2 linked regions of the Homo sapiens genome follow. The protein of the gene in region 1 interacts with the protein of each later gene in a pairwise test. Each region holds a gene or a part of one and is shown on either strand. Other genes may lie near its edges.

Region 1 (3,613 bases):
TAAAAATATATTATTAAATGTGACATAAATATATTATTAAATGTGACATAGCTATTCAGTGTTTGCAAAGTAGTTCCCATGGAAACAATATTAAGATTTCCCATATGAGGCTGGGTGTGGTAGCTCATGCCCGCAATCCCAGCACTTTGGGAGGCTGAGACAGGAGGATCACTTGAGCCTGGGAGTTTGAGGCTGCAGTGATCTGTGATGGCACTGGTGCACTCTAACCTAAGTGACAGAGCAAGACCCTGTCTTAAAAAAAAAAAAAAGGCCAGGCGCAGTGGCTTATGCCTGTAATCCCAGCACTTTGGGAGGCCGAGGTGGGTGGATCCACGAGGTCAGGAGATCGAGACCAACCTGGCCAACATGGTGAAACCCCATCTCTACTAAAAATACACAAAAATTAGCTGGGTGTGGTGGTGCATGCCTGTAGTCCCAGCTACTTGGGAGGCTGAGGCAGGAGAATCACTTGAACCTGGGAGGCGGAGGTTGCAGCAAGCCGAGACAGCACCAGCTGCACTCCAGCCTGATGACAGAGGGAGACTCCATCTCAAAAAAAAAAAAAAAAAAAAAAAAGAATTAAGAATCCCCATGTGCATATCATTGTCTTGAAAATAGCTGGGATTGAGTTATCTTGCACAACATTCAGTCCATTCACATTGAAGCAGGACATGAAGCTTATAGCTTGCCTGATAATGTTAAAAATGTAAATCTAATACCTGTTGATAAATATAAATTCAATAATAAACCTTTAGTAATGTACTTTTCATTTTTTACAGGTGTGATGTGGTAGAGAGATTTGGTAAAAGTAAAGATGGTAGTCAGTGTGGAGAAACCTTAAGCCAGATTCGAAATAGTATTGTAAACAAGAACACTCCCGCCAGAGTAGATGCATGTGGAAGCAGTGTGAATGGAGAAGTCATAATGGGTCATTCATCCCTGAATTGCTACATCAGAGTTGATACTGGACACAAACACCGGGAGTGTCATGAATATGCAGAGAAGTCATATACACATAAGCAGTGTGGGAAAGGCTTAAGTTATCGCCACTCCTTTCAAACATGTGAAAGGCCTCACACTGGAAAGAAACCCTATGATTGTAAGGAATGTGGAAAAACCTTCAGTTCTCCTGGAAACCTTCGAAGACATATGGTAGTAAAAGGTGGAGATGGACCTTATAAATGTGAATTGTGTGGGAAAGCCTTTTTTTGGCCCAGTTTATTACGTATGCATGAAAGAACTCACACTGGAGAGAAACCATATGAATGTAAGCAGTGTTCTAAAGCCTTCCCTGTTTACAGTTCCTATCTAAGACATGAAAAAATACACACTGGGGAGAAACCGTATGAATGTAAGCAGTGTTCTAAAGCCTTCCCTGATTACAGTTCATATCTAAGACATGAAAGAACTCACACTGGAGAGAAACCCTACAAATGTAAACAATGTGGGAAAGCCTTCAGTGTTTCCGGTTCCCTTCGAGTACATGAAAGAATTCACACTGGAGAGAAACCCTATACATGTAAACAGTGTGGGAAAGCGTTTTGTCATCTTGGAAGCTTTCAAAGACACATGATAATGCACAGTGGAGATGGACCTCATAAATGTAAGATATGTGGGAAAGGCTTTGATTTTCCTGGTTCAGCACGAATTCATGAAGGAACTCACACTCTAGAGAAACCCTATGAATGTAAGCAATGTGGGAAATTGTTATCTCATCGCTCAAGCTTTCGAAGACACATGATGGCACACACTGGAGATGGCCCTCATAAATGCACAGTATGTGGGAAAGCCTTTGATTCTCCTAGTGTATTTCAAAGACATGAAAGGACTCACACTGGAGAGAAACCCTATGAATGCAAGCAATGTGGGAAAGCCTTCCGTACTTCCAGTTCCCTTCGAAAACATGAAACAACACACACTGGAGAGCAACCCTATAAATGTAAATGTGGAAAAGCTTTTAGTGATTTATTTTCCTTTCAAAGTCATGAAACAACACACAGTGAAGAGGAGCCTTATGAATGTAAGGAGTGTGGGAAAGCATTTAGTTCTTTTAAATACTTTTGTCGCCATGAAAGGACTCACAGTGAAGAAAAATCTTATGAGTGTCAAATTTGTGGCAAAGCCTTCAGTCGTTTCAGTTACTTAAAAACTCATGAAAGGACTCACACGGCAGAGAAGCCATATGAATGTAAGCAATGCAGGAAAGCATTCTTTTGGCCCTCTTTCCTTCTAAGACATGAAAGGACTCACACTGGAGAAAGACCCTATGAATGTAAACACTGTGGTAAAGCCTTCAGTCGTTCCAGTTTCTGTCGAGAACATGAAAGAACTCACACTGGAGAGAAGCCCTATGAATGTAAGGAATGTGGGAAAGCCTTCAGTTCTCTCAGTTCCTTTAATAGACATAAAAGGACACACTGGAAGGATATTCTATAAGTGTATGGAATGTGGGAAAGCATTCATTGGTTTTATCACATTCAGATACTTGAAAGAAATAAATCCTGTGAATGTAAACGTGGTAAAGCCTTAAGAAGTTTCCAGGCTGGGCGCAGCGGCTCACACCTGTAATCCCAGCACTTTGAGAGGCCGAGGAGGGCAGATCACGAGGCCAGGAGATCGAGACCAGCCTGGCTAACATGGGAAACCCTGTCTCTACTAAAAATACGGAAAAAAAAAAAAATAGCCAGGCATAGTTGCTCACACCTGTAGTCCTAGCTACTCAGGAGGCTGAGGCAGGAGAATCCCTTGAACCCGGGAGGTGGAGGTTGCAGTGAGCCGAGATTGCACTACTGCACTCCAGCTTGGGTGCTAGAGCGAGACTCCATCTCAAAAAAAAAAAAAAAAGTTTCCATTTCTTTCAAATAGAGTTGCTGCCTGCTATATGCAAGAAGATTGGTTCCAGTACACCCTGAGTATACCTAAATCCACAGATGCCAGCTCTTTTATAAAATGGAATATTCGCATGTACCTACCCACATTCTCCTGTATACTCTATAAATGTCTAGATTAATTAAAATATCTCATGCATTGTAAAAGCTGTGTACATAGTTGTATTGTTTAGGGAATCATAAGAAAAAAAATCTATATGTGTTCAGTACAGACCCAACCATTGCAGGCCTATCTACATCGTATATATCACCTATAATGTTACAGTTTCTTGTTTCAATACTCAGATTACTTTTGTCTAATGACCTGAAAGAATGTGTTAACACCAACCACAATTCTGGTTCTTCTCTCTTGATAACCCAAGTATTACGATGGTTATGACAATGATGATTGCTGTATGGTGCCTAATGTGATGTGTAGAGGTGACTAGATGTGTGGCATCATAGATAAACAGTGAGACCTCAGGCTAACTTGAATCTTGACAGGACATCAAGACCTTCATCTATGTTGGAAGACCCAGGTTCTGATTGAAGATGTTGACTCTTTGCAGGAGGCTAATACTAATGTCAGCATCTGTTCAGCTTGAGGGCTGAAGATGTTTGTGTTGAAGGGTATGTCTTCATATTTGCAGATATTTAGTTAGAAGCATTGTTTTAGGAAGCTAGTTCTTTTTCTTTGAATCCCTAAAAAAACCTTAGTGTTCATTAGCATATTTTCCCTTATATGA
Region 2 (3,825 bases), on another chromosome or scaffold:
CTAACCTTATCATCAAACTTTCAGATACAAAAACTGTTAACTATCTCAAATTAAACTAGACTTTTAACTTCTTCATCTGTATTAGTTAAAGTTAATTTATAAATAAACATGAACCTAAAATCCGTATGTTCTGTGCTATATCTGTCAATACAGAGTAGCTATTAGCCCAGGGTTTCTAAAGTTCAGCACCATTGACAGTTTGGGCAAAATACTCCTTTGGTTTTAGAGGAAAGGGGTCACCATGTGCTCTGTAGGAGGTTTAGCAGTGTCCCTGCCTGCTATGCAGTGCATACAAGTAGCTCCTCCCTCATTTTGACAACCAAATATAACTCCAGACATTGCTAAATATCCGTCGGAGAAAAAATTATCACCCAAAAACTGCTGCACTAGTCATATGTGGTTACTTAAATGTAAATTAATTAAAATTAAATAAAATTTGAAATTCAGTTCTTCAGTCAGTATCTGTATTTCAAGTGCTCAATTCCACATGTGACTAATGGCTTCCATACACAGCAGGGCAGATACAGAACATTTCCACAGAAAGTTCTATTGGATAGCATTGGCCTATAGTACAGGCTTATAGTTAACTGAAAGTAACTGTGGAACAAAAAACTATACTTTGCAGGAAAATTCTGAATTTTTCTTTTCTAAAAATATATTTCTCTACTCAGAACTAGTTGTCTAATTTCTTTTAGGCATGGTGTTTCACGTTTTAACTCCTAAATTATCTAAGAGTTGTATATAAGAAAATCAAAATTCGGCCAAGCACAGTGGCTCATGCCTATAATCTCAGCACTTTGGAAGGCCAAGGCAGGCAGATTACCTGAAGTCGAGAGTTCGAGACCAACCTGACTAACATGGAGAAATCTCGTCTCTACTAAAAATATAAAATTAGACGGGTATGGTGGCGCATGCCTGTAATCCCAGCTACTCGGGAGGCTGAGGCAGGAGAATGGCTTGAACCCGGGAAGCGGAGGTTGTAATGAGCCAAGATCACGCCATTGGACTCCAGCCTGGGCAACAAGGACAAAACTCCGCCTCAAGAAAAAAAAGAAAATCAAAATTCTATTTTAGAGGTAGAAAATTACCTAAATTTCTTAGTTTTATGTTTTCTTTTTGAAACAGGGTCTCACTTTGTCGCCCAGGCTGGAGTGCAGTGGCACAATCACAGCTCACTGAAGTCTCGACCTCGCAGGCTCAAGTGACCCACCTGCCTCAGCCCCCCAAGTAGCTGGAACAGTAGGTGCTCAACACCACATCCAGGTAATTGTATTTTTAGTAGAGATGGGATTTCCCCATGTTGACTAGGCTGGTCTCGAAATCCTGAGTTTAAGTGATCCATCCACCTGGGCCTCCCAAAGTGCTGGGATTACAGGTATGAGCCACTGTGTTTTTGAGCTTTAGTGTTTTTGTTTTTCTTTTTTTTTTTTTTTTTGAGTCTCGCTCTGTTGCCTAGGCTGGAGTGCAGTGGTGTGATCTCGGCTCACTGCAACCTCCACCTTCCGGGTTTAAGTGAACCTCCCACCTCAGCCTCCCAAGTACCTGAGATTATAAGTGTGTGCCATCACACTCAGCTAATTTTTGTATTTTTAGTAAAGATGGGTTTCACCATATTGGCCAGGCTGCTTGAATTCTTGACCTCAAGTGATCCATCTGACTTGGCCTCCCAAAGTGCAGGATTACAAGCATGAGCCACAGTGCCCGGCCAGCCCTTCGTTTTTTTTTATTAAAAGCAATAGTATCCTTAAATATTTTCAAATATAGGTTTTAAATTACAGCACTTAAAACTAGGTTACCAAAAAAAGCATTTGTAATATTGATATTTTTTAAATACAAAAATACTTTACTTCAGTACTCTATTAAAATGTTAATTTCACAGAAAGCAACCTAGACCAACAGAAACACTTTAATTTTTGCAGGTACATGCCACAGCCTGTACCTTCTCATAACTACCTTTTTCCTTCTCCTTTTTCTTTTACTCCCTCATTGCTCTCCACTCCCTTGTTCTATGCATTTATTTTGACAGTGACACCTAATAGCTGTAGTTAACCCCACTGGTAAAACTCACAACAACAACAAAAAAGCTATTGGGCCTATTTTTAAAATCGTCATTAGGGGCTGGGTGCGGTGGCTCATGCCTGTAATCCCAGCAATTTGGGAGGCCAAGGTGGGCGGATCACCTGAAGTCAGGAGTTTGAGTCCAGCCTGGCCAACATGGTGAAACCCCATCTCTACTGAAAATACAAAAATTAGCTGGGCGTGGTAGCAGGCGCCTGTAATCCCAGCTACTGGGGAGGCTGAGGCAGAACTGCTTGAACCCAGAAAGCAGAGGTTGCAGTGAGCCAAGATCATGCCACTGCACTCCAGCATGGGCGACAGAGTGAGACTCCATCTCACACACACACACACACACACACACACACACACACACACACAAATTACCTTTAATATATGAAAAAGCAGGCTGGGCACCATGGCTCACTCCTGTAATCCCAGCACTTTGGGAAGCCAAGGCAGGCAGATCACTTGAGGTCATGAGTTCAAGACCAGCCTGGCCAACATGTGGAAGCCCCGTCTCTACTAAATATACAAAAATTAAACAGGCATGGTGGAGGGTGCCTGTAATCCCAGCTACTCGGGAGGCTGAAGCAAGAGAATCGCTTGAACCCGGGAGGCGGAGGCTGCAGTAAGCCGAGATAGCGCCACTGCACTCCAGTCTGGGCAAAAGACGGAGACTCCGTCTCAAAAATACAAAAAAAAACAACAACAACAACAAAAGAAAAAGCATTTCTATGCCAAGACAACATTAGCATTTATATTATCTATTTTTTTAATTTAAAAAAAAACTGTTTTAATAAAATAGAGACAAGGTCTCAGTACGTTGCCCTGGCTGGTCTCACACTCCCGGGCTCAAGGGATCCATCCTCCCGCCTCGGCCTTCCAAAGTGCTAGGATTACAGGTATAAGCCACTATACCCGGGCAGCATTTCTATTATCTAGAAGTGTAGTTATTGATTCTTATACATTTTCAATTAAATATCCAACTTTAATGTGAAAACATCACGCCCTTAAAGCAAGCAAACTTTCAAAAAGACTATAATACTAATACACTACTCATGGTACCATACTAAACATTTTACGTATATTATCTCATTTAATACTAAAATCTTTATGAGGTGGGTATTATTTTCCCTATTTTATAAATGAGTAAACTGAGACTTGACCAAGTAACTTGACCAAGGCCTGCACAGCTGGTGACAGAATGGGAATCTGAACCCATTCTCTGAACCAAAGAATCCTAAGAGTACCAAATTGTGAGATGGGAGACATGCTGGTAAATACTGACTATAGCAACCCACAGAATTATGAATCTCAAGAGTAGAAAGAATCCTTCATAATGGTTAAGGAGTTCTCATGTAATGTTTTTAACTTTTAGCAGACTCTGGCTGAAACATATGGGGACAATTTAATATCTAAGGTAATAACATGATCTTATTGAAGGATATTAATCATTAAGTGAAAAAAGTTTATATAGATTTCACATTTTCTGATGTGACGCATCAACAAGTAACATTTCAGGACCACAGGACACTACAAAGAATGGCATCAGAACTTACAATTATGTCTCTCTCTCTCTCTTTTTTTTTTTTTTTTTGAGATGGAGTCTCACTCTGTCGCCAGGCTGGAGTGCAGTGGCACGATCTCGGCTCACCACAACCTCTGCCACCCGGGTTCAAGTCATTCTCCTGCCTCAGCCTCCCGAGTAGCTGGGATTACAGGCATGTGCCACCATGCCCGGCTAATTTTGTATTTTTAGTAGAGATG

What was found.
Region 2: the proteins of ZNF44 (region 1) and UPF2 interact in a two-hybrid assay, tested with the Homo sapiens proteins (one large-scale study listed by BioGRID).

What each region holds. Positions count from the first base shown.
Region 1 is NC_000019.10:12,271,230-12,274,842, reverse strand, and holds the end of ZNF44 (zinc finger protein 44), read left to right. Parts: intron 1-777; exon of another isoform or gene 778-779; coding exon 780-2,436; 3' UTR 2,437-3,035; downstream 3,036-3,613. UniProt on the Homo sapiens protein: May be involved in transcriptional regulation.
Region 2 is NC_000010.11:12,035,985-12,039,809, forward strand, and holds part of UPF2 (regulator of nonsense transcripts 2), read right to left. Parts: intron 1-3,825. UniProt on the Homo sapiens protein: Involved in nonsense-mediated decay (NMD) of mRNAs containing premature stop codons by associating with the nuclear exon junction complex (EJC).